Homo sapiens: one gene and its partners. The protein of the gene in region 2 binds, or shares a complex with, the protein of the main gene of each other region. Each region holds a gene or a part of one and is shown on either strand. Other genes may lie near its edges. The genes, in order: MCM5, GINS4 and CDC45.

Region 1 (10,538 bases), on a different chromosome or scaffold from region 2:
GTACCCGAGCACAGCCATAAGAGCCATTTCCTTTAACCCTCCTCTTCTGGGAGGCAAGCTCTGTCCTCATTGCTAGGCAAGACCTACCATGGTTTGGGAACTACAGAGCTGGGTAGGAACATGGGTCTCAGGCCACAGCCACTACCTTCTTACCAACTCTGAGGCCCATGATAGTTGGGGGAGTCAACTGCCAGCCCACCAATCTGGTGACTGGATGTCACATGCGATGCCCTCATGGATTCTCACCTTGTCCATCTACCCTTCGTCCCCCAGGCTCCCTGATGGACTTACTCGCCGAGGAGACATCAACCTGCTGATGCTAGGGGACCCTGGGACAGCCAAGTCCCAGCTTCTGAAGTTTGTGGAGAAGTGTTCTCCCATTGGGGTGAGTGGCCTGGGATACCTTTGCCACCTTGGCTTGCAGGGAGGAAGGCTGCAGGGCAGGGCCTCTGGGTCCTCAGGACACCTGTGGTGGGCTGGCTCACCCGGAATCTCTTCCTCCTTTCTCTTGGCTGCGGTCAGGATGGCCGAGGAGATGGGAGGAAGAAGGGAGCCAACAGGTGTATGTAGGTTTGGGGCAGGGGGCGAGTACACTGTACTGAGAGTCAGGATGGGGTTTGGGTCTCACCCTGGCCAGAAATTGGCTGTGGGCTTTGAGTAAGTCACCCAATCTCCCTGAGCGTCAGTTTATCCATTTGCTAAATAATGATATTGTTATCATTAATAGCTAAAATCTGGCTGGGCATGGTGGTTCATCCCTGTAATACCAGCGCTTTGGGAGGCCGAGGTGGGCGGATTGCTTGAGCTCAGGAGTTTGAGACCAGCCTGGACAACATGGTGAAACCCTGTCTTTACCAAAAATACAAAATAACTAGCCAGGCGTGATATGCACCTGTGGTCCCAGCTGCTTGGGAGGCTGAGGTGGGAGGATCACTTAAGCCCAGAACGGGGAGGTTGCAGTGAGCCAAGATTGTGCCACTGCACTCCAGCCTGGGTGACAGAGTGAGACCATGTTTCAAATAATAATAATAAATAATAATAATAATAATAATAGCTAAAATGAAGGGCCAGACACTGCTTGAAGTACTTTGCATATATTTACTTAGTCTTCACCTCAACTGTGTGGCAGGTACTATTACCCCTGTGTTAGGGGTGAGAAAACTCAGGTACAGAATGGGTAAGTGTCTTGGCCCAGGTCTCACTGCTGGTAAGCATTAGAGCAGGATGTGATTGAACCCAAGTGTCTGATGAGCTGGGTCCTCTGCTGCGTTGTTGAATGGGTCTGCGGGGATCAGAGCCAGAGAAGGTCTGACATGATCCGAGTGGCGGGGTTGTATAGGGCGAGATGGTGGTCTTTGGATAGATAGGAAGTGTGCCAAATTTGCCACACTGGCACTGTCCAGTAGAAATAGTGAACTGCACATGCGACCCATGTATGTCTTCTCAGATTGTCTAACAGCCACATTAAAAAGTAGCTGGGTGCGGTTGTGTGCATACCTGTAGTCCCAGCTACTTGGGAGGCTGAGGTGGGAGGATCACTTGAGCCCAGGAGTTTGAGACCAGCTTGGGCAACATAGCAAGACCCCGTTTCAATTTAAAAGGAAGAAGGGGAAAGAAAAAAGGAAAAACAGGTGAAGTTACTTCTGTTTAACTCGCTATATCTAAAATCTCATTTCAACATGTTGTTTGATATGTAGATTATTGAGATACTTTACATTCTTAGGAGCTCTGAGTCTTTGAAATCGTGCGTATTTTGCACGATTAAGGACATCTCAGTTAGGACTTTCCCAATTTCAGGGGCTCTATGGCAGTATGTGGCGTGTAGGTCTATATAGAGACGACAAGGGACTCACGATGGGGGCAGGCTTTCCCTGGGAGTCAGGAGTCCTCATCCTAGCCCTGAGGCTAACTCCTCTTCTCTGGGCCTCAGTTTGCTCATCTGTGAGTTGGGCCTCACAAGACTGTGTCACAGGGCTGTGGTGAGGCTTAGGTGAGCCATGGATGTGATGCCCTCAGCGGGGAGAACATCTGGGCACACCGAGGCCCAGGGCAGCATCCCCTTCCAGAGGGAGACGCACTGAGTTGGAGCCTTGAGTCCTATTCTGTACCCTGCAGCCAGCTTTGATGTGTGACCTTGGGCAAATCACAACCTCAGTGGGTCTTTTTGTCTTATGGGGGTCAAAGCATGGAGTTGTTATTGGGCCCTGACACCACCCCACTGCCCCAGGTATACACGTCTGGGAAAGGCAGCAGCGCAGCTGGACTGACAGCCTCGGTGATGAGGGACCCTTCGTCCCGGAATTTCATCATGGAGGGCGGAGCCATGGTCCTGGCCGATGGTGGGGTCGTCTGTATTGACGAGTTTGACAAGGTGAGTCTGATGAGGTGGGTAGTAGCCAAAAGGTGGGTGGCACCAGGGTATGTGACTTCCTGTGCTCAGCCAGCAGAAATCACCTCTGACTTGGGAGACATGTTTTCAATCCCTGGGCCGGTCACTCTAGTAACTGTGGGAAGCTGCTTAACCTCTTCAAGCCTCAGTTCCCATATCTGAAGAGTGGGGAGAAGAAAGGCAAGCCCACACAGTTGTTCCCATGATTAGAGGTGACCTGGTTGCTGCCATTGGCCTTGCGTGGAGCTGGTATTCAGGAGTGAGGGCTGCTGTTAGTTTTCCTGTTTCTACTGCTCCCTGCTCCCTCACTTCAGTAGGTCTGATGATATTTCTCTCTTCCCCACTTAGATGCGAGAAGATGACCGTGTGGCAATCCACGAAGCCATGGAGCAGCAGACCATCTCTATCGCCAAGGTGAGTGGCCCTCCATGGAGAGCCCAGCCTGCAGCAGCCCAGCGTGGCCCAACCGTCCTCAGGCTGCCCTGATTGGGACCAAGTTCTCTTTGCCCAGGCCTAGAATCTGTGTGTGTGTGTGTGTGTGTGTGTGTGTGTGTGTGTGTGTGTGTGTGTGTGTGTGTGTGTAAACGTGTATATAAGAAGGCATCTTTGCCATCTCCTCCCCCTTTTCGTCGTCTGTCGCCTGTTAGGCTGGGATCACCACCACCCTGAACTCCCGCTGCTCCGTCCTGGCTGCTGCCAACTCAGTGTTCGGCCGCTGGGATGAGACGAAGGGGGAGGACAACATTGACTTCATGCCCACCATCTTGTCGCGCTTCGACATGATCTTCATCGTCAAGGATGAGCACAATGAGGAGAGGGATGTGGTACGTCCAGGGGCAGGGCTGGTGGCCATGGGACCTGCCTCCAGGCAGGCTTGTGATTGTGTGGGAAGGAGAATGGAGAACAAGGGCCTTGGCTGGCAAAGTCCTGACTGTCAGGCTGTGAAATTGGGGAGCACGTGAGAGGGCGGTTGTTGTGGACTGCAGAGGATTGAAGCAGGGTCTGGAGTCCTGTGGCCTGCTCTGCCTCTGCCGTGAGTGATAAGCTGTGTGATTTGGGCTAAATCAGTTTCTCCCTGGGCCTCAGTCCCTTATATATGAAACAGAGGAGTTGACATTGGGTTATGAGTAATAGAACCTCAGTTCTGGTTAGTAAATTTTTCAAAGAAAAAAACATAGTGGTTTATAGAATTGGTAAGTCCGGCGGCTTAAGGCCCAGGTAGATCTGGATTCTCAAACAACTGTCTCTGCCTTTCTGTTCTGCTTCCCTTGGTGGAATCTTTGTACTTGGGCAGCTGTTCCTCTTGTGGTGGCAAAGACAAAATAAGATTTTGTCCTGTTAGCTTGTAGCTTAACAGCCCCCAGGAAAGAGGAGGCCCCGTCTTTTCCAGTACTTCTATCAAAAGTCCCAGGATAGACTCCTATTGGCTTGGGTAGATCCTATGTCCATGCCCAAGTTGGGGTGGACAAGATACATGCCCCAAGTCGGGGTGGACAAGCTGAACCCACCCCTTTATGGACCAGGGCAGAGGAGCAAGGAGCATTAAGTTCTCTCTAAAGGAGAATCCAGATGCTCCCATCAGAACGAGGGCCTGGTGCTGAGCAAACAGGCTGAGCACGCCTGAGATCTCAGCACCCTTTCCGGCTCCTTGATGCCAGGGCCCCATCAGCTCTTTCTGGCTGTTCCACCTCAGTGCTGGGACTCAGGCTTGGGACGGCCTGTGGGATGACCCATTATCCCCTCTGCTCTCCAGATGCTGGCCAAGCATGTCATCACTCTGCACGTGAGCGCACTGACACAGACACAGGCTGTGGAGGGCGAGATTGACCTGGCCAAGCTGAAGAAGTTTATTGCCTACTGCCGAGTGTGAGTCCTGGACGCAGGCCCACGGGGGTGAGGTTGCCCAGCTTCCCTGGGTGGGAGAGAACCCAGTCCCCTGGTCCTGCTCCTCCTCATGAAGAACAGCCCAGATGTTGCTGTTCTGAGGTTCTCAGCTCTACTGAATCTGCTCTGCTCCCTTCTAACCTTGCGTAGCTCACTGGCTCTTGGCTTCAGTTTTCCCACCTCCACACCAAGGAGGTGGGATTTAGATGGTCTTGAAGACCTCCTCGAGTCTGACATGCAGGGAGGCAGTGAAGTGTAGACATGGTAGACATGGGCTCTGGGTCATACCTGCCTTCACTCTATGACTTTGGGCAAGTTGGTTGGCCTCTCTGAGCCTTGATTTCCCCAGGCCTATCGATGTTTGCTAGGATTTTTGTAAGGATTGCACAAGATGATGAGTAAGTGCTTGGCATAGCCCTGCCCTGGGTAAATACTCAGTGAGTCGCAGCTGCAATTTGATTGTTCTCACAGATTTTCAATAATAATAATTATATACATAGTACTGGCTGGTTGCAGTGGCTCACGCTGTAATCCCAGCACTTTGGGAGGCGGAGGCAGGTGGATCACTTGAGGTCAGGAGTGCGAGACCAGCCTGGCCAACGTGGCGAAACCCCATGTCTACTAAAAATACAAAAATTAGCCGGGTGTGGTGGTGCACACCTATAGTCCCAGCTACTCAGGAGGCTGAGGCAGGAGAATTGCTTGAACCCAGGAGGCAGAGATTGCAGTGAGCTGAGATCGTGCCATTGCACTTCAGCCTGGGCAACAGAGTGAGACTCTGTCTCAAAAAAAAAAAATATATATATATGTGTACACACACACACACACACACACACTCACTCTTACACACTACTTTCTTTGTGCCAGGCATTCTGAATTACTATTCAGTATTTTCTATATGAATAAATTATAACCCTCCCCCAAAACCTACCAGGTAAGGTGTGCTATTATTCCCTTCCCTTTATGGATGGGGAAGCTGAGGCAAAGGAAGTTAAGTAACTTGCCCAAGGTCACATGCCAGAGGTAGTGGAGCCAGGATGTGAACCCAGCTGCTTGCCTCCAGAGGCTGTGCTCTTAACCACAGTGCTTCGATTCTTGTCGTACAGCGCTTTGGTGATCTTTTGAAGGAGCTAAAACCCAGGGGTTGAGGGCTCTTTGAATGCACTACCAGTGGGGGGCTGGTGGGTCCCTGATTCAGCACCTCTGCCAGGGTGAGTGGGTAGTCCCTGGGTCTTCATCCAAGTCTGAGCTCTGTGTGGCCCAGTCTTGAGAGGCTTGGGCCCACAGCTGTGAGTCAGGGAGCCCTGGATTCTAATCTTCCCTCTGCACTAAGTCCCCAGGTAGCCTTGGGGAGTTCCCTCCCTCCCTCTGGGTCTCAGTCTCCACATCCTTAGGATGGTTGAGCTAAGGCTTTCCCTACATCAGTGACTGTCAGTTGGCCTGGGGGCTAGAGGGGAGGGGATGGGATAGGGTAGATGCTGATCAGACTTCCCCACACCTACCGTCCCAGGAGAGTCTGAGGTGCTCCCAGCCCCTGGACTGCAGTCACCGCCAAGCCTCCTGTGGGTGTCATCAGCTTGTCGTGTCTTCAGATGTGTTGGGTGGAGGAGTTTGAGACTGCTGCAAAGCCCACCACCCAGTGGGCCTCCATGCCGCTGTGATTGTGCCATTGTTCATTACATGTATGGGGGACCTTGTGGCAAGACACCACACAGCGTCTAACAGTGGGGAAGAGGCGGTTTTCACCCTGCAGACGTGCCTGGCTTTTCTTCACCTGTTTTTTAAGAGAGGCACCCATATTTCTCCCCAGTGTTGATGTTTGTGGCAGCTGCCCACAGCCAGATTTCACTTAAATCTTTTCCGATTGTTGTCCCCCAGCCCATATGAGTGGGCAGCTGTGGTGTGGTGGGAAAGTGCATGTCTGTAAGCTGGCAGGGGGCTGGGGGAAAGGGTAGGTGCCCTAAGAGTCCCTCCTGGCCTCACACCAGCCTCTCCCCACTGTCCTGCAGGAAGTGTGGCCCCCGGCTGTCAGCAGAGGCTGCAGAGAAACTGAAGAACCGCTACATCATCATGCGGAGCGGGGCCCGTCAGCACGAGAGGGACAGTGACCGCCGCTCCAGCATCCCCATCACTGTGCGGTGAGCAGGCGGGCAGGGCTGGGCCATGGCAGATGGGGCTTGCTTTACACAGCAGGGTGTGCTTGGCAACCAGGGGCAGTGGTCCAGGCTTTTCACTTGGCACAGGCCCATAGTAGCTCTGGGCAGGAAGAGTCCCTTTGGAGCATAAACTATGGCCTCCTTGATCTCAATGATGATCCATGTTTCTTGATTTAAGGCCGGGCAAACCTAGACCCCTCTTGTCTGAATTTGGCCTGGCTTCTCCCATTGTAGGAAGCCCGAAGGGAGGGAAGGACCCAGGCCTGGGAGTCAAGAGTCTTGGGTCCCAGCCTCTAGCCCACTGTGTGACTGTAGGGAAATTACATTCCTTCTCTGGCCCTCAGTGCTTTTAGCTCCTAACTCTGTTCATTCTTGTGACTTTGTAGACAATACAGTGGGTAAGAGTTGGGATTTACCTGGTTTGAATCCTGTCTCCAGCACTGACTGGTTGGAAATGGATTTGGCTATAAGTAATGGTAAATCCAGATAAAGTAGCTTAAAGAAATAGGAAGTTCATTTCTCTTTTCTGTAGCACTGTCTGGAGGAAGATGGTATGGGGACTGGTGTGAGGACTCCTCAAGCTCCCCCTTACTCTTAGTCCGAGATGGCCGCTAGAACTTCAGCCATCACCTCCAGGCAGCAGGACAGGAAGGAAAGAGAGCTTCCCTTTTAAAGGACACTTCATGAAGTCCCACACAATGCTTGGACTTACAACTTACTGCCATAGATTGGTCACACAAATACAACCTGGTACAAAAGATGTCTGGGATGTGTTTTAGTGGATCGCTGTGTGCCAGACTAAAAACTGGGGTTCCAAGCTAGGTGCAGTGGCCTACATTGTGATCCTAGCACTTTGGGAGGCTGAGGCAGGAGGATTACTTGAGGCCAGGAGTTTGAGACCAGCCTGGGCAACATAGCAAGACTCCCATTTCTACAAAAAATAAAAAATTAGCCAGGCATTGTGGTGCATGCCTGTAGACCCAGCTCCTCAGGTGGCTGAGGTGGAAGGATCACTGGAGCCCAGGAGTTCGAGGCTGCAGTGAGCTATGATCATGCCACTACATTCCAGCCTGGTCCACAGAGCGAGACTTTGTCTCAAAAAAAAAAAAAAAAAAAAAAAATTGCAGTTCTATGACTAAGATCAAAAGGGAGATGGATTATGGGGACACCTAGCAGTCTCCACCACAGTCTTACCACTTTGGGCAAGCACCTCCCTGGTAACGGGCTGGCTGGGGAGGAAGGGAATAGCGGACCGAGGCTACCCTGAGCACGCTGTTGCCCCCACAGGCAGCTGGAGGCCATTGTGCGCATCGCGGAAGCCCTCAGCAAGATGAAGCTGCAGCCCTTCGCCACAGAGGCAGATGTGGAGGAGGCCCTGCGGCTCTTCCAAGTGTCCACGTTGGATGCTGCCTTGTCCGGTACCCTGTCAGGTGAGCAGATGCAGGGGCCATGGTCTCAATTGATCTGGGTTCCCTGGCTCGGAGCTCTGTGGGCAGGGCTCTGGCCTGCTGGGGGCCTGCAGTGTGTGTCTTGCTTCTCTGAGTTTGCTGAGCTTCTCTGAGTTTCTTTTTGCCATAAGACCCCTCTCCTCCTTTCTCCCCACCGCTGTTTCCTCCAAGATGGGAAGAAGCAGCTTCTCTCCAGACCCTTGAACACAATCCTCTTGACCCAGGTCATTGATGATAACCCTTCTCACTGGCTAGGAACAACAGTTGATGCTCTGCTTCCTAGAGCTTGTCAGCATTTTCAGTGCTTCCAGAGTTATTTCTTGCATTTTGCCTTACAGCTGCCCCCTGGAAGCCAGGTGAGCAGTCAGTCCTGCCCATGTTAGAAATGAGACAGCTGACACTCGAAGGGGCCTTTCCCTGGTGCCCAAGATCACAGTCGCTTGGCTGGAATGCAAGTCTCCTGGCCCCTAGGCCAGCGTTTTCCACACCATAAGCCATACTGTCTGGTTTCGGTCAGCCTTTCAACAGACTGTCCCAGGCACCGATCATGAGCCAGGCTACCTACGCTGGGGAAAATCTGTTCCTTCACCCAGCAGATACTTCATTAGTGTTACTGTTTGCCAGGCACTGTTCTAGGTGCTGGGAGTATAAGAGCAATCAATCACAGGGTCCCGGCCCTCCTGGGTTCTCATTCTCGTTCTAGTTGGGGAGAGATAGACAGTAGAGAAACAAATGCAGGTAGTGTAGGTAGTGAAAAAGGCAGTGAGGGAGATGATGGCAGGGCCAGGTGTGTTGGAAAAGGAGGACGTGCTCTTTCCCATGGAGTGAGTGGGCATGGCCTCTGCAAGGAGGTGATGCCAAGCAGGGAGCTGCATGAAGGGGACAGTGTGGCTCCTTGGGGGAAGAGCTGCTCAGGTGGAGGCAGCGCTAAGTGTCAGTTTCCCCAGGAGGGAGCAGGTTTGGTGCATTTGAATGGGGAGGCACTTGGGTGAGGAATGGGGTGGGTGGGGCCTGTTCCTCCTGTCCCCCTTGGTGAAGACTCAGCCTCTACCCTGGAGACACTTGCTGTCACATGAGACATTGCAGGTGGAGGCCTCTGGGATGCTGCAGGCACAGAGGGCAGGGGTGATATGGAGTGGTGATAATTTGAGTTGGGTCTTATGGGCTATGTAGGAGTTTGCCTCACAGACTCCCCTCTCAATGACTTCTTGACCATGAGCCCACCATCTCCTTAGCTGAAACACCAAGGCCTCTGTGGCAGTAATTGGAAGTCACGAGCCTCCTGGTTGCCGAGGGCTCCTCAGGGCACCTCGTAGATGTGTCCAGGGCAGGCTGGCTTCCCTCCTGGGTCACTGATGGGCCCCTTCCAACTCTCTCTCTAATCTATCTGCTCCAGCAACAAAAGGAGTCCTGCTGTGGCCTCCAAGGGCCCGCAGGACTTGGTCCCTAGTGACACTCTGGCCATGTCTCTGCTGCGCTGGGCCCCGGGCTGCTTTTTGAATGAGACAGGTGTGTTCCTGCCTCTGTGACTTTGTGCTTGGCCTGGAGTGTCCCCACATGTGCCATATCCTGTCTCCTCAATCAGGCCTGCACCACCCTGGCACACTCGGTGCCCTTTTCTGACTTACTCTTCGGGGCCTGGCTCAGGCTGTTCTTCCTTGGGCTAGAGGCTGTCTCTGTCCAAGAACTCCCATTGTCCCAGCTCCCCGGCTGCCTCACTTCTCCATGCCCACAGGGGTGGAGGGCTTCACCAGCCAGGAGGACCAGGAGATGCTGAGCCGCATCGAGAAGCAGCTCAAGCGCCGCTTTGCCATTGGCTCCCAGGTGTCTGAGCACAGCATCATCAAGGACTTCACCAAGCAGGTGAGCCTGCCTTGGAGTGGGGGTGTGAGCCGGCACGGGGTGCAGGTCTTCTGCTGGTTCCCACCCACTCAGCACTGGCATCTTACTCAGCAGACAGGCCCTGAACGGGGGTAGGATGGACAACTGTCCCTTTCTCAGACCTTTTCTAGCCATCATTCCTTCCCTAGGGACATCTTCATCAGGAGCAGGGATGGGGGTATTTTTTCTGTCCCACGAAGGGGAGGGGAGAGCAGAGGTGGTTGGATTCTGGTGAAACCCCATACAAGTTCCCCGCAGCCCTTCCCGTCTGTGCCTTTCCCCGTTGGCGGGCGTTTCATGGAGTGGGAAGGGGCAGAGCCATGAGAGTGAGCTTTCTGGCTCACTGAGGAGGGTACTGTTGGCCCCATAGAGAGAAGATGGGATTTCCCAGATGCTCTGGAAAACCTGTCACCTTTAAAATCTCAGGATTAATCCTAGTTTCTGGTCTCCGCTCCTTGTACATCATCTCATTTTGATTCAGGGCAGTTTAATGGGTGGTATCGTGTCTATTCTATAGGTGCGCAGACTGAGGCTTAGAGAAAGGTTTAGAGCTTCGGTTCTAGAGTCAGATGGGACTTAAGTCCCAGCTCTACCTCTTAATTGCTGTGACCTTGAGCAAGTGGCTTAGCCTCCGTGTGCCTCAGTGTCTGGTACACAGTGGGCACTCAGGAAGTGTGGGCCCTTTAGGTCAAAGGAGCCTGAGTACAAAGTTCCCCGTGAGCCTGGGGATGTCTGGGCTCTGTCGGAGTCCCCTCGGGCAGCACGTGCCGTTAGCCAGCC
Region 2 (10,538 bases):
TAAGTTGTAATAGCTATGACTTACTGCATATTTCCCATGTGCCAGTAACTGTGTTCTTTACACTTATATCTCATGATGCTCTGGTAACAGGAGTTCAGACTATCTGGATTTAAATCTGTCTGTGACACTCCTCTGTTATGTGATCTTGAGCAAGTTAGGGAGTTTGTCTCAAGCCGTTGCTTGCCTATAAAATTGAGACAATAGGGCCGGGCACGGTGGCTCAAGCCTGTAATGCCAGCACTTTGGGAGGCTGAGGTGGGCGGATCACCTGAGGTCCAGGAGTTCGAGACCAGCCTTACCAACATGGTAAAATCCCGTCTCTACTAAAAAACAAAAATTAGCCGGATGTGGTGGCGCATGCCTGTAATCCCAGCTACTCGGGAGGCTAAGGCCGGAGGATCACCTGAACCTGGGAGGCAGAGGTTGTGGTGAGCCAAGATCCTACCCACCATTGCACTCCAGCCTGGGCAACAAGAGTGAAACTCCGTCTCAAAAAAATAATAAAATAAAATTGAGATGATAATAGTGTCTATGTCCTGGAGTTTTTGATTAAATGTGGTAATTGTGTAAAGCACTCAGCATGCTATCTGACACATGATAAGCACTCACTAGATGTGAGCTGTTCATAGTAAGTATCCTTATCCTCTTGCTCTAACTGCCCCTTTCCAGAGCTCTCTCATGTTTGCTACTTTAGTATTCTTCATTCTTCCCTGCCATACATGATATCACGAATGACAAAACGGAACTAAAATGATTTTTAAATTATACCTTACATGATAATCCTTACTATTTAGCAGTGATTCTTAATCTGTTTTTATATCACAGACCTTTTTGAGAAACTGGTAGAAACTGTGGTCTTTCATCCCACAATAACGCACACATGCACCCATGCAGAATTTTGCATATGACTTCCAGGGGATCAGAGATCCCCTGAAATCCACCCACAGACCTAGTTTGTGGAACAGCATTAAGAATTCCTGGTTCGTTAGGAAAGGGTTCATTAAACAAAAATCAAAAGGCACATAGCATAAAGGAAAAAAGGGATACATTCCTGGAGTGCAGTGGTGTGATCTTGGTTCACTTGCAGCCTCCACCTCCCAGGTTCAAGCGATTCTCCTGCATCAGCCTCCTGAGTAGCTGGGCCTACAGGTGTGCACCACCACGCCTGGCTACTTTTTGTATTTTTAGTAGAGATGGGGTTTCACCATATTGGGTTTCGCTGTGTTGGCCAGGCTGGTCTTGAACTCCTGACCTTGTGATCTGCCTGCCTTAGCCTCCCAAAGTGCTGGGATTACAGGCATGAGCCTCTGTGCCCAGCCTGTTTGTACTTCTGGATTAGAGTGAAAAGACAGGCCACCAGGCTGGGAGAAGATATTTGCAAAATACTAATATGTAGCTGACACAAGATGATTATCCACAGTACATAAACAGCTCTTTCATACTGCCCAGTACAGACTGATACCTCAGAGAAGAAGAAAACAGGATGACCAATAAGCATATGAAAAAGATGTTCAACCTTTTTAGTAATCAGGAAAATGAAAATCATGAGATATCATCTCATATCTATCAGATTGGAAGAACTGAAAAACGTGAGCAATATAAAGTATGGCAAGAATGTAGAGCAGCTGAGCGCAGTGGCTCATGCCTGTAGTTCTAGCAACTCAGGAAGCCCAAGTGGGAGGTTCATTTGAACCCAGGAGTTTGAGACCATCCTGAGGATCATAGCGAGATCTTATCCCAAAAAGAGAAAATTAAGAATATAGGGCAGGCCGGGTGCGGTGGCTCACACCTGTAATCCCAGCACTTTGGGAGACCGAGAGGGGCGGATCACCTGAAGTCAGGAGTTCAAGACCATCCTGGCCAACATGGCGAAACCCCGTCTCTACCAAAAATACAAAAATTAGCCAGGCTTGTTGGCATGCCTGTAATCCCAGCTACTCAGGAGGTTGAGGCAGGAGAATCTCTTGAACCCAGGAGGTGGAGATTGCAGAGAGCCGAGATCATGCCACTGCACTCCAGCCTGGGCAACAGAGCAAGACTCCATCTCAAAAAAAAAAAAAAAAAAATGAAGAGCAATTTGCACACTTATATACTGCCGTGGGATATAAATAGGTATAATCGCTTTGGAAAATAATTTGTTATTGTCTAGTAAAGATGAAGGTGCACATACCTGCGGCCCAGTAGTTCCACCCCCAGGTACATACCTAGTGAAAACTTCCGCATGTACTCTAGGAGACATCCACAGTATGTTCACACATTGCTTGCAATAGTTAAAAATTAAAATAACCTAGACAACCGTAAACAAATAGCATTGAGAAAATATACCATACACAGTGGGAATAAAACAGCAGTGAAAATGAGTAAAATAACTCCTGAAACAGCATGAATAACAGGAACTTAATGTAGAACAATAACAACCATAAAATATGAGCTGCCAAAGAAACACTTTATGTAAAGTTCAAACTTGCAAAATTATTGTTCAAGGCAGAGCCGCCACCCTTGGGTGATGTGGCACACTGCTATGCCACAGATGCCTCTGTGTGGACCCCTGCACCTTCCAGGACAGCTGGAGCCCCAGGCTGGTTACTTTTTCAAGTGAGCATCATCGGGGTCCTTGAAAGGCAGCTAGAGGATGGGGCGGCGGGGGTTCTGACAGCACAGCTGCAGCTTGCTGGTGGGTAAGCTGCAGTAACATCTCATGCCTGATGCTCTAGTGCAGTGCCCTGAGTGCAGCCAAGGAAGTGACCCGCCACCTGCACGGCTGCCACAGCCAGATCCTGTCTCTTATGCTGTGTGGCACAGCCAAAGGGACAGCCTGACAGGGCTGCTGATGAGAACAGCTCCAGGAGCATATATAGGATACCCTTTAATGCCTGTAAAAAGTGATTTAAAAGTTGTTACCTGTAGTGCAGATTTGCTCATTTTAGTGATTGTTTTAGTTTGCTAGGGCCACAGAGCGAAGTCCCAAAGACTGGGTGGCTTAAATAGAAATTTATTTTCTTAATTCTAGAGGCTGAGGTCAAAGTGCCAGCATAGTTGTCTTCTTCCGAGTCCTCTGTCTTGGGTTTGTAGGTGACCATATTCTCCCTGTGTCCTTGCATGGTCTTCCCTCTCGTGTGTGTCTGTGTTAAAATTACCCCTTATCAGGGCACCAGTCTTACTGGATTAGGGGCCATCCTAATGACCTCATTTTAACTTAATCACTTCTTTAAAGACCTCCATCTCCAAATACAGTCACGGTCTGAGGTCCTGGAAGTTAGGTAGATTTTTGAGGGGCGGACACACTTCAGCCCGTAGCAATAATGAACAGATTGGCATTTAGAATTTTGATCAGGGGCCAGGCACAGTGGTTCAAGCCTGTAATCCCAACACTTCTGGAGGCTAATGCAGGGGGATGTCATGAGGCCAGGATTTCGAAGACCACTGTAGGCAACATGGTAAAACCCCATCTTTATTAAAAAAAATTTAAAAATTAGCCAGGCTTTGTGGTATGTACCTTTAGTCCCAGCTACTCTGGAGGCTGAGGCAGGAGGATCACTTAAGCCTTGGAGGTCAAGAATGCAGTGAGCCATTATCATGCCACTGTGTGACCAGAAACCAGATGTAGCCATTTCAAGCATAAAACCTGAGTTAAAAAAAAAAAAAAGATTGGATTTAGATACAAGTTTCTCAGTAAAAATTTTGGAAAGATTTATATGAAAGTTTTATACTAATATAAACTTCCACCTAATGTTTTATACTTTATTGTCATAATTTCATAATGTAAATGAAGTGGTCCCCAATACTACCCCAGTGTACCAGACAAGCACTATCATTTTCTTTGAATATCCTGTCATGAACAGGTTGAGAGGTGTTCTACAGAGATATGAACAAATGTAGTGAGACCATAAAGAAAATTCAACATGAAATTCAAGCTAATGATTACCTCTGAGGAGGGAGGGACACACAGGGTCTTTTTTTTTTTTGAGATGGAGTCTTGCTCTGTTGCCCTGGCTGGAGGGCAGTGGTGCAATCTTGGCTCACTGCAACCTCTGCCTCCCAGGTTCAAGCAGTTCTGCCTCAGCCTCCCAAGTAGCTGGGACTACAGGCGTGCCACGCCCGGCTAATTTTTTGTATTTTTAGTGGAGACGGAGTTTCACCATGTTAGCCAGGATGGTTTGATCTCCTGACCTCGTGATCCGCCTGCCTCGGCCTCCCAAAGTGCTGGGATTACAGGCGTGAGCCACTGCACCCGGCTTGTTCTTGTAGTTTTAAAAATTATTCAGTATTTGGCTGGGCTCGGTGGCTCACGCCTCTAACCCCAGCACTTTGAGAGGCCAAGGCAGGTGGATCACTTGAGGTCAGGAGTTCAAGACCAGCCTGACGAATACGGTGAAACCCTGTCTCTAATAAAAATACAAAAATTAGCTGGGCATAGTGGCACATGCCTGTAATTCCAGCTACTCGGAAGGCTGAGGCAGGAGAATCACTTGAACCCGAGAGGCAGAGGCTGCAGTGAGCTGGGATCATGCCTCTGCTTTCCAGCCTGGGCAACAGAGTGAGACTGTGCCTCAAAAATAAATAAAAATTATTCAATATTTAATAAAAATCAATCAAAAAGAAATGCTGCTCCTAATAAGCCCTCCAGAAAATATGATGTTTTCCCATGCATTATGCAGGTTTTTTTTGTTTGTTTGTTTCAGTCTGCAGGACTGTTACAGATGCTCAGGCTCTGCACAAATGCCTATGACTGTAGCCATACCCAGCATTTGGTAATGTGTCTTGACGGTGATCATGGGGAGAAGCAGACACTCAAGGACGTCAGAAAAAAATAAGTTGAGCCTGGTCAGCATATAATTCTGAGCTATGCTAAAACTACATTTCCTGTAATTGAAAGATAAGTGTAGCTTTCCTCAGTCACTTAGGGATATTTCAGTTCTCTAAGCCTTGGAAGTCTCTAAAATGAACCAAACAGCTGGGCCTGAGTCATAAATTAGAGCTTTAACCTCTGGCTCCAAAACTCCATAATAGATGAGCGCCTGTTTCTATTATGATCCTGTATACTTTGGGGCCATTAGTAAATTACTCAATCTGTATTTTTTCAATCAGATGAGGATAACTATATCCATTTTCTCTGAGATATGATGATGATGAATGAAAAATATTTGTGAAGTGCTCTGAGCTTCAGGAATGAAGAGCTGTGTGGATTGGTGGGTTATTGCTTTCTCTCTAAATAGACATGGGGTGGCGCTGCCTGGGGGAACAGTGTGCCCGGGCTGCCTGGCAAAGGCACTATTTGAACACCAGGTGGTGTCACTCTCAGCACCAAGCGTCACACTAACTGAAGTAAGCAAGGGTTTGTATGAGTGTCAGTTGAATAGAAGGTTGTGAACACAGCCTCCCAACTAAAACAAGACACGAGAAAGCAATCGCTAAACGTAGTTTGTCTTCAAAACACCTTCAATGTTTCCAGTTGGTGGGCAGACAGTTTTCTTGCCTGCGCCATCCCTGGTTTTCGTTGGACTTGGGCTGACTCACTGGGTTGTTTAGCTCTGTGGTGGGTGATGCTTGCTTTTTCTGGCATTTGTCTTTTAGGCCTGGATGAATGAAAAGTTTGCCCCTGAGCTGCTGGAGAGCAAGCCTGAGATTGTAGAATGTGTCATGGAACAGCTGGAGCACATGGTAAGAGTCGCTTGTCTTGGGTTGACAAAGGAGGAGAAAGGTAAAAGCATTTGGTCAGCACACTGAGAGCTTGTGGTCTGGTAGCAAATCTGTTTTGTTTGGCTCCACTCACAGTCCAGTTCTTTAAAACAACATTGAATTAGTTATCTATGTTTATCAATCTTGAGAGTGCCTGTAAATATCTGGATATTGGCTTCCCATGAAAAGTCTAAAATCCTGCATTTCTGCATGAGAACAGTTGACCAGAGCAGTCCCATGAGAGCTGTCCATCCATGTACTCCCTGCTCCCCACAGCCCCTGACTACCCACCCTTCTCTTGTAGCCTCCCCACCTGGCCCCTGCAAACATTTGAGTTTGTGGTCCCTGGCCTAGATGATCTGAGCATAAATCATTGTCAACTTCAGAGAAGCTGTAAAATGTGGATATTTCAGTTTCTCAGCTGGTGTTTTAATACTGCTTTTTAGACCCAATGGAAGTTTCGTCTGTGTGCTGTACTATCTCCCTTACAATCAGATTGGAGTTCTTTTGGAAGCCTCTGGCTGAACAGATTCTATTCAAATGGTCATTTTCTAAAAGTAAATGACTATTGTTTGTACTTTATACAATGATAAAATGAAAACTCACATGATATTTTTGTTTTCCTTGGACTGAAACATAGTCTGGGTCCTCAACGTTGCCGGTGATGATGGTTGAACATCATGTTTTTTATAAACCTTAATTTCTCATTTAATAGGAAGAAAATCTCAGGAGAGCCAAAAGGGAGGACCTGAAGGTCAGCATCCACCAAATGGAGATGGAGAGGATCCGCTACGTCCTCAGCAGCTACTTGCGGTGTCGCCTCATGAAGGTTTGACGTGGAGATACCTGGAGGGATTGAGACAGCACAGTCTGTAATGCAGACTGAATGTCCTGGGGAAAACTTGGGCTGGGGCCCAGGAGGGTCCAGGACCTGAAGATGCTGCTAAGAGCCCAATATCCATGTAGCTAAACTGTAAGGAGAGCGAGAGATTGCTCCACAGAAGCACAGAGGAACGTGTGTGGCCCACTGCGGGGACACCGCACACATTTTTAGTCTGTTCACCTGCCGAGTGAGTGGTTCCCCCTTGCGTTACAGCATGGCAGTGCTAAAGGGAGAGTTGTTGGCATTGGTCAATAGTGAATGCTGACTAGAGGAGAACTTGTTTCCAAAATTATTTTGTCTGTCAGATGGCCAACGTCAGTGTCAAATGAACCAGGATGACTTACATTCACCTACAGCTTTGTGGCTATCTAACTTACAAAAATGAAGTTGCAGGCCAGGCGTGGTGGCTCACACCTGTAATCCCAGCACTTTGGGAGGCTAGGCGGGTGGATCACCTGAGGTCAGGAGTTTGAGACCAGCCTGACCAACAAGGTGAAACCCCATTTCTACTAAAAATAAAAAAATTAGCCAGGCGTGGCGGCAGGCGCCTGTAGTCCCAGCTACTCAGGAGGCTGAGACAGGAGAATTGCTTGAACCCAGGAGGTGGAGGTTTCAGTGAGCCAAGATTGTACCACTGCACTCCAGCCTGGGCAACAGAGCGAGACTCCGCCTCAAAAAAAAAAAAAAAAGAAATTGCAAAACATTCCTAGTTTATAACTCTGAGAAATTCTTACTTCCTTGACATTTCATTTGGTTCTATGTGTCTCTTTAGTTATTACAAATAAGATAAATTATCTCTTCTACATGAGAATGCTTCAGCTATCTGAAGACTGCCCACAGTCTCCTCGAAGTCTTCTCTCAGGCATACATTTTAGCCATTCAAACCATTTACTCTCCTGGTCTCTTCTCTAAAAGGGTTCTTGTTTGTCTCTATCCTTCTTAAGTTACACTATCTTAAACTAAACACAGTATCCCAGTTGTAGTTTGACCAAGTTTGTGAAAAACAGAATGATCATTTCTCTTATTCTGGTTATTAAGCTGGTAGTAATGCCAACCACATCACATTAGCATATTTATCACATTAGCATATTGACAGGTACGCTGCCTGAGCTCATTCTTCACTCACGTGGACACTAACCCCTTTTAAGATGATAATTACCCCATCCAGTCACTGTCCTCTACTTGTATGGCTTAGGTTTTGGCTCCTTAAGTGTAGGGCTTGATACTTATCTCTCTTAAGCTTTATCTTATTAAATTGGGCCATTTCCCTTGTCTCTGGATGCTGATCTTGTCACCTAATGTATTAGCTGTCTCTTAATACTTTATGTCATCAACCCCCTTTTTTTATTTGTTTGGTTGTGTTTTTTTGTTTTTTTTGACAGAGTCTCACTCTGTTGCTCAGGCTGGAGTGCAGTGGCGCGATCTCAGCTCACTGCAACCTTCGCCCCCCAGGTTGACGTGATTCTGTTGCCTCAGCCTTCCAAGTAGCTGGGATTACATGCCCCTGCCACCAGGCCCAGCTGATTTTTAGAAGAGACAGGGTTTCACCATGTTGGCCAGGCTGATCTCGAACTCCTGACCTCAGGTGATCCACACCCACCTTGGCCTCCCAAAGTGCGGGGATTACAGGCATGAGCTACTGTGCCTGGCCCACATAAGGTTTTTGATGGCATGCTTACCAAAGCTGGTGATGACCAGTTACAGGCTCACGCCTATAATCCCAGCACTTTGGGAGGCCAAGGCAGGTGGATCACCTGAGGTCAGGAGTTTGAGACCAGCCTGGACAACATGGTGAAATCCTATCTCTACTAAAAATACAAAAATCATCTGGGTGTGGTGGTGGGTGCCTGTAATCCCAGCTACTTGGGAGGCTGAGGCCGGAGAATCACTTGAACCCGAGAGTTGGAGGTTGCAGTGAGCTGAGATCACACCACTGCATTCCAGCCTGGACAACACAATGAGACTCCATCTCAAAAAAAAAAAAAAAAAAAAAAAACCTTATGTGATTATTAATTGGACTGTGGCAAGGGTCTTTCACAAAAGACTTCCCTACAGTTTGACATCTACCCATTGAGTCAGCATTCTTTTTTCAGCCACTTAGGAGTCTCCCAATCCAAGCCGTCCCCTAGCCCCAGGTCCATAGCTTGCCTGCAAGGGTGTCTCAGAGACGTTGTCCTGTGTCTTATGGTGTGTCTCTCCACCCACCCTATCCCACCTCCAGGCCACATGTCCTTCCTCGGGAGGGTTGTGTAAACCCTCTTTATGTTAACCACATCCTTCTCTTTGACTTTTGCCAATGTTTTCATGAAGATTTTGCTTTATCCTCACAGATAGAGAAGTTTTTCCCTCATGTCCTTGAGAAGGAAAAAACACGTCCTGAGGGGGAGCCTTCCAGCCTCTCGCCGGAAGAGTTGGCCTTTGCCAGAGAGTGAGTGAGTGAGCCGTTGGCGTGGGGCACCTGGCTGGTTCAGCATGAGGCCTGTCCTAGAGGCCTGTGCGCTGCTGCCTGCTAACCTTGGACGTCCATCAGCTGTGTACACCACAGCGATTTGAATCCATGTCTTTCAGGTTCATGGCGAACACAGAGTCCTATCTGAAAAATGTCGCCTTGAAGCACATGCCCCCTAACTTACAGAAGGTGGACCTCTTTCGGGCAGGTAAACAGGACGTTCTCCCTGCAGGTGGCCCACCCATCCTCAGGTGTCCCAGGGTAGGATCCTCTCTTCACTGTTTTTACCCAAATACAAAAAAGTAAGTATGTAGATAAACAGAAAGAAGAGCAAGGATTCTAGCTAAAAACCAAAAAAATCACGGAAAGCAGATCCAATGGTAGGCATTTGAGCATTGCTTCCTTGTTCCCTGGGGTGGGCTGAGCCCCATGACTGCACTGGTGCTTGTAGACTCGGGCATGGAGCCGCGTTCGCCTTCAGTAGCCATCTGCTGAGCCTCTGTGAGGTGCTGGCAGCCCCGAGTACCAGCACTGCAGAGCCTACACCAACATTGCCCCTGCTTAGAGGGGCTGGCCATCTCTTCGTCACAGGTCCCAGAATGCACAGGGCTCGCCTAGCTGGAGGGGAGGGCTGAAACAGGAGGCTAGGGAGACCTCCAGTGAGTCCCTGTGGCCTCAGAAGAGGGAGCAGGTTGGAGGGTGTGGAGAGAGGAGGGAGGGGAGCCGGGGAAGGGGAGCTTGGCCGGAGCCCCTCCTCGGGCTTCTTCGCACCAGCCCCTGAGGGCTGCCGAGCAAGGAAAGGGAGGTATAGGCAGAGCCCTTACCGTCGGATCAACCCACCGGGGGCCCTGGCTTACAGGATAAAGCCCATGTTCCTCAGTGTTTCACAGTGCGCCAGATCCAAGCAAGACCTCCTCAGGCAAAATTGCCATACCAAATCAAACGAGCTCCAGTACACCCGAGCCCTGGAAATTCATCTCTGCCCAGCCTGTGCTGGGGCTGGGGACCACACAGCCACCCCTGCGGTGGTGGAACAGGGTCTTAGTCCCTTTGGGCTGCTCACAGTTATGGAGACTGGGAAGTCCAGGATCCAGGCCCCCACAGACTCAGTGTCTGCCAAGAGCCTGTTCCTCATAGATGGCGCCTTCCATATGTCCTCACAGAGAAGGGAAGGGGCAAGCAGACTCTCAGGCTACTTTTATAAGATCACTAATCCTAGTCTCTGTGTGTCCTAGTCCCCTCCCTCCCCCCCACCTTTTGATTTTTGTTTTTTGTTTGCTTTTTATTTTTTGAGACAAGGTCTTGCTCAGTTGCCCCAGCTGGAGTAGATTGACGCTGTCATAGCTCACTGCAGCCTTGAACTCCTGGGCTCAAGCGATCCTCCCACCTCAGCTTCCCAAGTAGCTGGAACTACAGGCATGTGCCACCATGCTTGGCTATTATTTTTAAAATTTTTTTGTGGAGACAGAATCTTGCCATGTTGCGTAGGCTGGTGTCAAACTCCTGGCCTCAATTGATCCTCCAGCC
Region 3 (10,538 bases), on a different chromosome or scaffold from region 2:
TCGGTGTGTGGTGACCTCACTCATGTGGCTTGGGCTTGCTCTTTCCAGTCTTCCCCTGAAGCAGGTGAAGCAGAAGTTCCAGGCCATGGACATCTCCTTGAAGGAGAATTTGCGGGAAATGATTGAAGAGTCTGCAAATAAATTTGGGTAAACACACATTTTTCTGGATTTATCTTCATTACATCCAGGTTCATTAAAGTGAAGGGTTCTACTTTAACTGTGCTCCTAAAATAATGCAAAAAAAACCAACGTGCTCCTAAAATAATGCAAAAAAAACAACAACCCGAGAATGTACAAATGAGTGTTATCTGAGTCTGGCCATTCCTGAAGTCTTGAGTTCTTTTTGGGTTAAAAATAAGACTTCTTCAAGCTTGTGAGGTTTAGGATCCTAGGATCCTTGGATCCTAGGGCTGCTGTGGGACCTGTGAGGTCGACCCCAGTCTGTTTCACTGGAGACAGCAAATGGGCCACAGGGCCAGGTTCAGGTGAACTCTGCCCGACCAAGTCCATGGGCACTCCTGGAGGCCCCTGGCTTCTCCCACCCCAGCCAGCTGGCATGCTAAGGTGTGAGAGAGGACCCCACACACCCCCTAAGCCAGCCATAAAGCTGTTGACAAGAAGGCACCCGGCCACTCTGGGCTGCAGGGCTGGTATGTCTGGACGTTCTGACCTGCCTCATCCTCTGAGCAGCATGGCTGTGCTGGAAGCATTGACTTGGGCCTGTGAGGGACATTAGCACATCTGTTGGCCTGCCTGGCAGTGAGAGCTTGCCCACAATTTGAGGGTGACAGCTGTGTTTGCTCCCATGACAGGATGAAGGACATGCGCGTGCAGACTTTCAGCATTCATTTTGGGTTCAAGCACAAGTTTCTGGCCAGCGACGTGGTCTTTGCCACCATGTCTTTGATGGAGAGCCCCGAGAAGGATGGCTCAGGGACAGATCACTTCATCCAGGCTCTGGACAGCCTCTCCAGGTAGCAGGAGGGCTGTGGGTTTGCCTCATGGGGCCACCACTGGTTCTCACACTGCCCAGGGAGGTCAGTTACGGGGACCCCAGGGCTGTGGGAGTGACTGTGTCCTGCAGAAACTGCTTGGGTGAACTGGAATCACAGTGCCAGTGTGGTGTGCACCTGACACATTACCTGCCCCTCTTCAGTATTTGTCACTTTCTCTTGAATCTTTTTTGGCTTTTTTTTCTTTTTGATTTTTAAAATTTTCTCTTTTTTTACCTTTTGTATCTCTTAACAAAAGGCATTATTTGTTATGTATATTCGTTCTTGTGTTTAATCTTATAGTTGTCATTTCTCAATTTTTTAATTTTCCAATTCTTTCTTATCTCACTTCCTGAGATGTCCTATATTTTTCCATGTCTTTTCGCTTGTTTTGAAATGGAATGTGACAATTTGGATCTTTTTTTTAGCATGTCTGTCTAGTGTCAGACTAAAGACATCAGAGAAAAATATCTCCAAATACACTGAATTTATTTGGGAATTAGAAAAGAGGATTATAGTGTCTGCGATGCACAGCTATGGCAAGCCAAATATGCATCCAAAGAGAGGAGGCTAAGGGGACACTTTTATTGGCAAAAGGAGAAGTTCACGAAAGCTAGCTTGGAAACAATTCATTGGTTTCAGAGACTCAGAGCCAGAGTTGGCGTCAGTTCAGTGGTGAAGATGCATTACTGGGCAAGTGTTATATTTTAAGAGCATCTTATCTGAATTGTTGCAGTCCTAAAGAAGGGATTTCTTGTGGGGTTATTTAGAAAGTCTTTGAGTCTTTATTCCAGACATGCAAGCAGGAGCTCTCCTTGGTGCTTTCCCAGCTTTAATTTGTTTGGGCCTGTCAAAAAGTGATTTCATCCTGGGATCTGCAACTTTCACATTAGTGTACTTTCATTATCCAGAGAGGTGTTATTCTGTCCCTTATTCTCTTTTTTTCTAATAGTGACTTTGAGGGGATTTGACTTTGCTACTTCTCTCATGCTTTTTATGTATAAATTTCATTTCCCTGACTTTTTAGGAGGAGGAGGCATGATTCAGACAGCTTTTCTGGCTTCACAGAGCTGCCACTTCTGTTGCTTTTGTGCAGTGGTAAAGATGCATATGTATATATGGGGGCCTGCTTTCTGGGATTTCCTGGTTCTGCTCCCAAGCACACTTTTTTTTCCACTGCTTTATTGAGATACAATTTGCATGCCATACAATTCACCCATTTAAAATGTACAATGTGATGGCTTTTATTTATTTTATTGTTATTTTTTTAGAGACAGGGTCTCGCTCTGTTGCCCAGGGTGGAATGCAATGGCATGATCATAGCTCACAGCAGCCTTGACCTCCCAGTCTCAAGCAATCTTCCTACCTCAGCCTCTTGAGTAGCTGGGACAACAGGTGCATGCCACCACGCCTTGCTAATTTTAAAAATTTTTGTAAAGATGTATCACTATGTGGCCCAGACTGGTCTCAAATTCCTAGGCTCAAGCAATCCTTTCACCTCAGCCTCCCAAAGTGCTGGGAGGAACAGGCATGAGCCACTGTGCCCAGCCTGCAATGACTTTTAGTAGGTTGCAGTTAGGTTTTGCAAGGTTGTGCAGCAATCACCACTATCTAATTTTAGAGCATTTTTGTTGCCCCAGAGAGATCCTCCCAGCCTCTGGCAACCACCAGTCTCCCTTTTGTCTTTATGAATTGGCTGTTCTGAGCATTTCATACAAATGGGATCATATAAGATATGGTTCTTTGTGACCGGGTTCTTCACTTAGCATCATATTTGCAAGGCTCATCTATATTGTAGGATGTATCGGGATTATATGTCTTTTCCCTCGTCCGCCACCTGAGACAGAGTCTCACTCTCGCTCAGGCTGTAGTCCAGTGGCACGCTCTCGGCTCACTGCAACCTTCGCCTCCTGGGTTCAAGCAATTCTCCTGCCTCAGCCTACCGAGTAGCTGGGATTACAAACGCATGCCACCAAGCCTGGCTAATTTTTGTAGTTTTAATAGAGACGGGGTTTCACCGTGTTGTTCAGGCTGGTCTTGAACTCCTGACCTCTTGATCCACCTGCCTCGGCCTCCCAAAGTGCTGGGATTACAGGCATCAGCCACCATGCCCGGCCAGTGTCTTTTTATTATAAATAATATTCCATTGGATGGATATATTCTATTTCATTTATCCATTCATAAGTTGATGGGCATGTGGTTTGTTTCCACCTATTGACAATTATGACTAATGCTGCTGTGAACTTGCATGTACAAGTTTTTGTGTAGTCATGTCTTTGTTTCTTTTGGTTATATACCTACATGTGGAAATGCTGGGTGACATGGTAACACTAGGTTTCAAGGAACTGCCAGATTTTTGAGGAACTGCCAGACTTTTCCACAGCAGCTGCACCATTTTACATTCCCACCAGGAGGGAGGGTTTCAATTTCTTCACATCCTCACCGACACTTGTTATTGTCCATCTTTTGGATTACATTCATCCTAGTGAGTATGAAGTGGTATCTCGTTATGGTTTTGATTTGCATTTTACTGATGACTAATAGTGTTGAGCATCTTCTCATGTGCTTATTGGTCATTTGTGTATCTTGTTAGGAGAATTGTCTATTCAAGTCCTTTGTCTTTTTTTTTTTTTTTTTTTGAGACAGGGTGTCACTCTGTTGCTCAAGCTGGAGTGCAGTGGTGCAGTCATGGCTCACTGCAGCCTCAAACTCCTTGGCTCAAGCCATCCTCCCACCTCAGCCTCCTGAATAGGTGGGATTACAGGCATGAGCTACCACACCTGCTAATTTTTAAATTTTTAGTAGAGATGAGATCTTACCATGTTGCTCAGGCTGGTCTCAAACTCCTGGGCTCAAGCAGTCTTCCAGCCTTGGCCTCCCAAAGCACTGGGATTATAGGTATGAACCACCGTGCCCAGCCTAAAACTTTTATATATTCTACATACAAATCCCTTATCAGATAAGTAATTTGCAAGTATTTTCTCCCATTCTGTAGGCTGACTTTTCACTTTGGCAGTGTCCTGTGAAGTATAAGATTTGTTAATTTTGATGACATTTAAGTTACCTACTTTTTCTTTTGTTTCTTGTGCTTTTGGTGTCATATCTAAGAAACCATTGCCTAACCCAAGGTCATGAAGATTTCACATTATTTTTTCTACTAACACTTTAATAGTTTTAGCCCTTACATTAGGAGTATGATTCACTGGAGGTTTTTTTTTTTTTTTTTTTTGAGACAGGGTCTTACTCTGTCACTTAAGCTGGCATGCAGTGGCATGATTTCCACTCACTGCAACCTCTGCCTCCCAGGTAGCTGGGACTACAGGCATGTGCCACTGCACCTGGCTAATTTTTGTATTTTTTGTAGAGACATGTTGGTCAGGCTGGGCCCCTTACTCTTTACTATAGTCTCCTTACACTTCAGCAAGGCCCCTTGCTCTTTACCATGCCCCCTTATACTTTACCAGGCTCCCTTGCTGTTTAACAGGACCCCTTGCTCATTACCAGGACTCCTTGCACTCCAGGGAGGCTCCTTAAACTTTCCCTTGGCCCACTGCACTCACCTGCTCTTGCATAGGGCAAAACTCTCAGTTTGGGCCGCTGCTCTCCAGTTGCCTGGAGTTTTAAGTCTTCTTAGGTCTCACTACCTCTTGGCTTTCTCTCGCACTGATGTAGATAGTATACCTGTCTGGCTGTTCATGGTCTCTTTTTACCTGCTTACACTTTGGGGTTTGAAGTGTTCCCTTGTTCTCTTAATTTGTTGCAAATGTGGGTCCTAGGTTTTTGGTTTTGCAATCTAGTTGCTCTACTTTTATCTAGAAATTTGGGAAAATCCAAAAACTATTTTACCACTGTTGCTGCCATCATCCCAGCATTGATGGGTAGGCTTTAGACATTGTCTACCAACTTCCTGCTATGACAAAGGAGCATTTATCCCACTCTTGTCCACCTTCCCTCCTGTTGGTACAGTTTTGCCACTATTTTTAACTTCTTTGTAACTTTAACATATTTATGTCTTCTTTCATCACTAGTATCTCGTCTCCCTACTTTGTAAGAAAAGGATATTTAAAACACTCTTAGTCCATTTTGTGTTGCTATAAAGGAATACCTGAGGCTGAGTAATTTATAAAGAGAAAAGGTTTATTTGCCTCATAATTCTGATGGCTGGAATGCTCAAGATTGGGCATCTGCATCTGGTGAGGGCCTCAGGCTGCTTCCACTCATGGCAGAAGGGGAGCTGGTGGGTGCAGAGACCATGTGGCAATGGAGGAAGGAAGAGAGAGGAGGAAGGTACTAGGCTCTTTTTAACAACCGTCACGGGAACTAATAGAGTAAGAACTCACTTACACCCCCTAGCCCCAGGGAGAGCATTCATCTATTCATGAGGGGTCTGCACCCATGACCCAACACTTCCCACTAGACCCCACCTCGAAGATCTTGGATCAGATTTCAACATGAGGTTTTGAGGGGACAAATGTCCAAGGTGTAGAAACAGCCTTACTTTGCTCTTCAGTGCTGCTCAGTACTTTCTGAAATTTGTGCTTTTACGTTTTCAAGACTGATAACAATCTTGGGTTAGAGAAAAAGATATAAATTGTCTTATCTTTGGTTACAGGTTGATTTTAAAAGTTGAAAGTAAACAAATAGTTTTACTTTATTGTGCTAATAAACTATTCCAGAGACAATCATGTGTAGTAATAGATTACTATCTGGCACGGCTCTTTGTTTTTCCTGCTGTTTTTAATTGCCTCCTTTATCACATCCATTTTTTTCTCCTCCAAACTCCTTCCAGCTGTTTTTCTGTGAGCCCCTTTTTGCTGGAGAGTCTGGGGTTCTGTCTTCCCACCACAGCCTGGACCTACAGCTCTCTAGACCTGCTTTCCACTGTCCCCATGGATGTCCAAATCTTGGCTGTGCCTCTTAGTTTAGTCCAATGTTTCTTGGGATCTTCATCTTTGTTTCATTTACTCCCTCATTAAATTAGAGCACAGTTCTTAAGTAACATTCAAAGAAAGGGCGCATGTGAGATAAACTTTCTGAGTTCTTATATATCTGACAATATCTTTATTTTACTATTTCTTTACTATTCCCCCCACAGAAAACATCCGTGTTTTTTATTCTTGCTTTTCAGGCTTCCTGGAATGACGATGCTCTGTCTTATTTTTTTGCCTTACATTTTCCATAGCTTTGTCTTGTTATCTATGTTGAGGAAGTTTTTCTTGACTCCAGACTTGGAGTGGATGTTTTATCTTTTGCAACTGTTTTAATTTCCATCAACATTTCCTAGTTTTTAACTCTTCCTTTTTCATAGCATCCTGTTCTTGGTTTAGGAATGTAAGAGTTGCACACATCTCTCTGAAGATACTAATTAGAGTTCAGTTTAACTTTCTTTAGTTCTCCAAATTATCTGTTTCTTCAGGGTTATTTTTTTAGGCCATAGGCATTTCTCAAATGGTCTGATGTCTTTCATATTCAAGAACGGGATTGTGGACCCTTGGCTGGGCCATGGGTATCTGGGCACAGCTCACTGGTCATAAGACATCGTTTCACCTTAGCAGGCAGGAGCCAACTGTGACACTTTGGGACTCCCCACTGTAGGGCCCAGAGGCTTTGCTTGAGGATTCTACTTATTCACAGATGGTACATTTCATATACTCAGAGGGGAGCCTCCCTTTTTGTGGGGAAGAGTAAAAATCTATCTGTTGGGTTTGAGGGGATCCCTTGTCCAACCTCCAGCCCTTGCCCAAGCCTCCCCTGTGTCAGAGTCCTCCTGGGCCTTCAGGATCTTCCCTTTGTTGGCTTTTAGTTTCCTGTCTTCTGATACTTGCACCCGCTCCACCTCTCATTTGCATTACTGTGGGTTTATACATTTTAAAAAATTCTTTCCTTTCATGTGAAAGACAACTCAGGAGGGAAAGAAGATAAATTCTTACCCCCAAACCTCTTCCTGAACCAGGAACCAAGCAAACTATTTGTGACTTTGGTATTTTACCAAGAGTTCCTGACAAGCACCACCAAAGCCATGTGTCTGCCCTGTTACAGGAGTAACCTGGACAAGCTGTACCATGGCCTGGAACTCGCCAAGAAGCAGCTGCGAGCCACCCAGCAGACCATTGCCAGCTGCCTTTGCACCAACCTCGTCATCTCCCAGGGGCCTTTCCTGTACTGCTCTCTCATGGAGGTCAGGCTTCCCACAGAGCACAGGCGCCTGGTCACAGCACCAGTGGCTTCGTCTGACCATCTGTCTCGCCTCCGCAGGGCACTCCAGATGTCATGCTGTTCTCTAGGCCGGCATCCCTAAGCCTGCTCAGCAAACACCTGCTCAAGTCCTTTGTGTGTTCGGTGAGGGGCCAGGCGGGTGCTGTGGGTACAGGAGGGCAGGTGCTTGGAGAGCTCCCTGGATGGGGAGTTAGATGCTGGCCTTGGGGTGCCTGTGGCTGTTGACCAGCTGCAAGGTCTAGGCACATCCATTACTTTTTCTGAGCTGTCTTTTTCTCAGCTGACCCCTAGGAACCTTCCAGTTCTCTCAAGCTCTGATTCATCACTGGCTGTCTAAGTCACTCAGACAAGTAGGGAGGGGCCCTTGCAGAGTGAACAGGGCTGGGGCTTGTGTCCTATTGTTGCAGGTCAGGGAAAGCGGGATGGTTGTAGCACCGACTGGCTTCCCAGCAACAGCTTGTCCACTAAGCTGATTTCCTGTGCCTGGCTTTGTCTTCTGTGTGGCCTAACCCCCTCTTTGCGTTGGCGTGGAACACACTCCTAACTTGGCTGGCTTTAGGGCAGGGGTCCTCACCTAGCCGACATGGGGCTCCTCCCAGATGTGACATGTCAATAATTGAAGTCCTCCTCTGCTTCGAGGATGAGAGTTTATGCCGGGGGCTATTTCAAACAAAATGTGCTAACAGGAAGTTGAACTTTTCTTTTGCCGCTGAACTAACCAGTAAAATGATGACAGATGACATGTGTTCTATCAACCAGGTAATGTCAAAGATAAACTAGGGACAGAGCATGGGCCTTGACGTCCTCTAGGCTGTGTTCAAAGATGAGCCTCCTCATTTGCCAGTTGTGTGACGTGAGGTAGATGATCTGACCTGATCCTCAGTTTCCTCATCCGTGAAATGGGTGAACACATACCCACTTTACAGGATCCATTCATTTACCAGACATGTATTGAACATCCACCACCTGCCCGGCCCTGTTGTGGAGTGACTGCCCATCCTGGTGCACATCCTGGGACACCCCTCAGTCCTAGACACACCAGGAATACTGGTCACCTGGGCTGTAGGGTGTGGGTGCAGCAGGCACAGCAGAGAAGGAAACCCTAAACCTTTATCCTGAAGGAGCGTGCCGGCGGGGGGGACGAGGAGTGGCAGCTGCGGTTAAGATGAGGGGATGTGCTGCCAGGGGATGGAGCAGGATGAGGCGGGGTGGGCTGGGGCCTCCTGGAGAAGGTGGCAGCTGCTGCAGGACCTGAAGGAGGTGAGGGAGAGGATAGCAGGGCAGGCTCCTTGCAACAAACAGCCAAGGGGCAGTGGGGCTAGGCTGGTAGACAAGGAGGCTCGGGGACACAGCATCACAGCCACAGTACCATGCTGTGGGTACGGGAGGGCAGGTGTTTGGAGAGCTCCCTGGACTGGGAGTTAGACACTGGCCTTGGGCATCTAACTTGGGGTGGCTGGGTGGGGACCAAGGCGTCTCCTGGTGACAGCGTCCCTGGAGGCTTTGGGGAGTGGAGTGACTGGGCGCTGTTGGGCTCTGGGCTCTGAGTGTTGAGCTGGGGCCCACCATACCCTGACGGAGGGTGCTCTCCGACTCCATAGACAAAGAACCGGCGCTGCAAACTGCTGCCCCTGGTGATGGCTGCCCCCCTGAGCATGGAGCATGGCACAGTGACCGTGGTGGGCATCCCCCCAGAGACCGACAGCTCGGACAGGAAGAAGTGAGCAGCTTCCACTCGTCCTGGGACTGGAGGGTCGGGGGTGTTGGGGTTATCAGCTTATTAGCCCTGCTGAGTAGAGTGGTATTTGCCTCTAGTGTCTGTCCTGGGGCGGGGGGTGGGAAGGGTCCATTGCAGGCCGCCTGGCCCCCGACATGTCTTGTGTGTCAGCAGCTTTTTTGGGAGGGCGTTTGAGAAGGCAGCGGAAAGCACCAGCTCCCGGATGCTGCACAACCATTTTGACCTCTCAGGTGAGAGTCTCCTGCCACTCTGCCACACTTTCCCACCTGACCCTTTGAGGCTATTGCAGGCCCTGGAACCAAGCAAGTTGGCATGGCTGGAGGAGCCTGGCCAGCAGCCCTCTTGACCTTCCAGATCTGGCCCTGGGACAGGCTACTCCTGGTGGCTCAGGGAGCTCTGGTGAACCTCAGGCCCCTGAGAGGGAAAAAGTGTTTTCCAGGGAATGACTGGCCTGGCTGTGGCCTTACAGCGGCCTTACAGCCAGTGCTAAGGATCACTTTCCCAGCAAGCCTAGGGGACTGGCCACCAGGGCCCGTGTGCCCCGATCTCACCTGTCAGGGTTGGGTTGTTTCTGTTTCATGGGGTGAGGGAACAGCAGGGCCCGTGATGACCCAGGACACCAACCCTTGCTGCGCCAGCCACCTCTCCACAGGCCGGGGTGTGTGTCGTGATAGGTGCTACCTGTGAGATGGCTGGGACACCGGCCCCACCTGTGTGTCAGATGAGCCCAGAATGGATAGGCCTGCCTGCCCACTGCTTCCCCAGCACCAGCACGGAACATGGTTCACATTCGGCTGTGTTGGCGTTCTTATTATTGTTGACAGGTTTTAAAGTAAAACAGACGTATTGATATTTCACCCCGGGTTAGTTTGCTAAAGCTGCCATAACAAAGTGCCACAGACAGGGTGGCTTCAACCACGTGTCTCCTCCCAGTCCTAGAGGCGAGAAGGCCCAGGTCAAGGTGGGGCAGGGCTGGCTTCTCCTCAGGCCTCTCTCCTTGGCTCACACAGATGACCACCTTCTCACTGTGTCCTCACGTGGTCTTTCCTCTGCATACCTCCTTGGTGTCTGTGTCCAAACCGTTTCATCTTCCAAGGACACCAGACAGATTGGATTAGAGCCCACCCTAACAACCACATTTGAACTTAATTACCATAGTCACATTCTAAGGTCCTGGGGGTAAGGGCTTCAACATAGAGATGTGGGGGAGACCGTTCAGCTCATAACACCCTCAGTACTTCCTGCACCTCTGAGAAAGGATATTTTCTTGCCTCATCACCACGGATTCCTCAACAATGATAGACACTGTCATGGGAGATCCAGCCTTTGTTGAAGTGGCGTCAGCCATCTCAGAGCTGCCTTCCTTGAGCCAGACCCAGCCATGGCTGTGGCACTGTGTGGCATTGGTTCACCCCGCACAGCAGCCCCTGCTAACTCTTTTGTGCCTGTGATGTGGGAGAGGTGGATGGACACCCACTGGCCTGCAGAATATCTGGCCTTCAGTATACAGGGAGGACTCGGGCTGGGAACTGCTTGGTTTCCCTGAGGGTGGAGAGCCAGGGGTGAGGGTGCAGAGTGGGCCATGTCTAGTG

The links.
Region 1: GINS4 (region 2) and MCM5 share a complex: the UniProt entries of both Homo sapiens proteins name them as parts of the CMG helicase complex.
Region 3: GINS4 (region 2) and CDC45 share a complex: the UniProt entries of both Homo sapiens proteins name them as parts of the CMG helicase complex.

Annotation. Positions count from the first base shown.
Region 1 is NC_000022.11:35,413,602-35,424,139, forward strand, and holds part of MCM5 (DNA replication licensing factor MCM5), read left to right. Parts: intron 1-273; coding exon 274-385; intron 386-2,227; coding exon 2,228-2,371; intron 2,372-2,737; coding exon 2,738-2,803; intron 2,804-3,036; coding exon 3,037-3,213; intron 3,214-4,142; coding exon 4,143-4,255; intron 4,256-6,282; coding exon 6,283-6,411; intron 6,412-7,716; coding exon 7,717-7,859; intron 7,860-9,612; coding exon 9,613-9,740; intron 9,741-10,538. UniProt on the Homo sapiens protein: Acts as a component of the MCM2-7 complex (MCM complex) which is the replicative helicase essential for 'once per cell cycle' DNA replication initiation and elongation in eukaryotic cells.
Region 2 is NC_000008.11:41,530,786-41,541,323, forward strand, and holds part of GINS4 (DNA replication complex GINS protein SLD5), read left to right. Parts: intron 1-3,519; exon of another isoform or gene 3,520-3,625; intron 3,626-5,574; coding exon 5,575-5,661; intron 5,662-6,285; exon of another isoform or gene 6,286-6,394; coding exon 6,395-6,508; exon of another isoform or gene 6,509-6,525; intron 6,526-8,892; coding exon 8,893-8,990; intron 8,991-9,130; coding exon 9,131-9,219; intron 9,220-10,538. UniProt on the Homo sapiens protein: Required for correct functioning of the GINS complex, a complex that plays an essential role in the initiation of DNA replication, and progression of DNA replication forks.
Region 3 is NC_000022.11:19,507,718-19,518,255, forward strand, and holds part of CDC45 (cell division control protein 45 homolog), read left to right. Parts: intron 1-48; coding exon 49-147; intron 148-812; coding exon 813-974; intron 975-7,031; coding exon 7,032-7,170; intron 7,171-7,247; coding exon 7,248-7,331; intron 7,332-8,809; coding exon 8,810-8,928; intron 8,929-9,096; coding exon of another isoform or gene 9,097-9,099; coding exon 9,100-9,176; intron 9,177-10,538. UniProt on the Homo sapiens protein: Required for initiation of chromosomal DNA replication. Core component of CDC45-MCM-GINS (CMG) helicase, the molecular machine that unwinds template DNA during replication, and around which the replisome is built.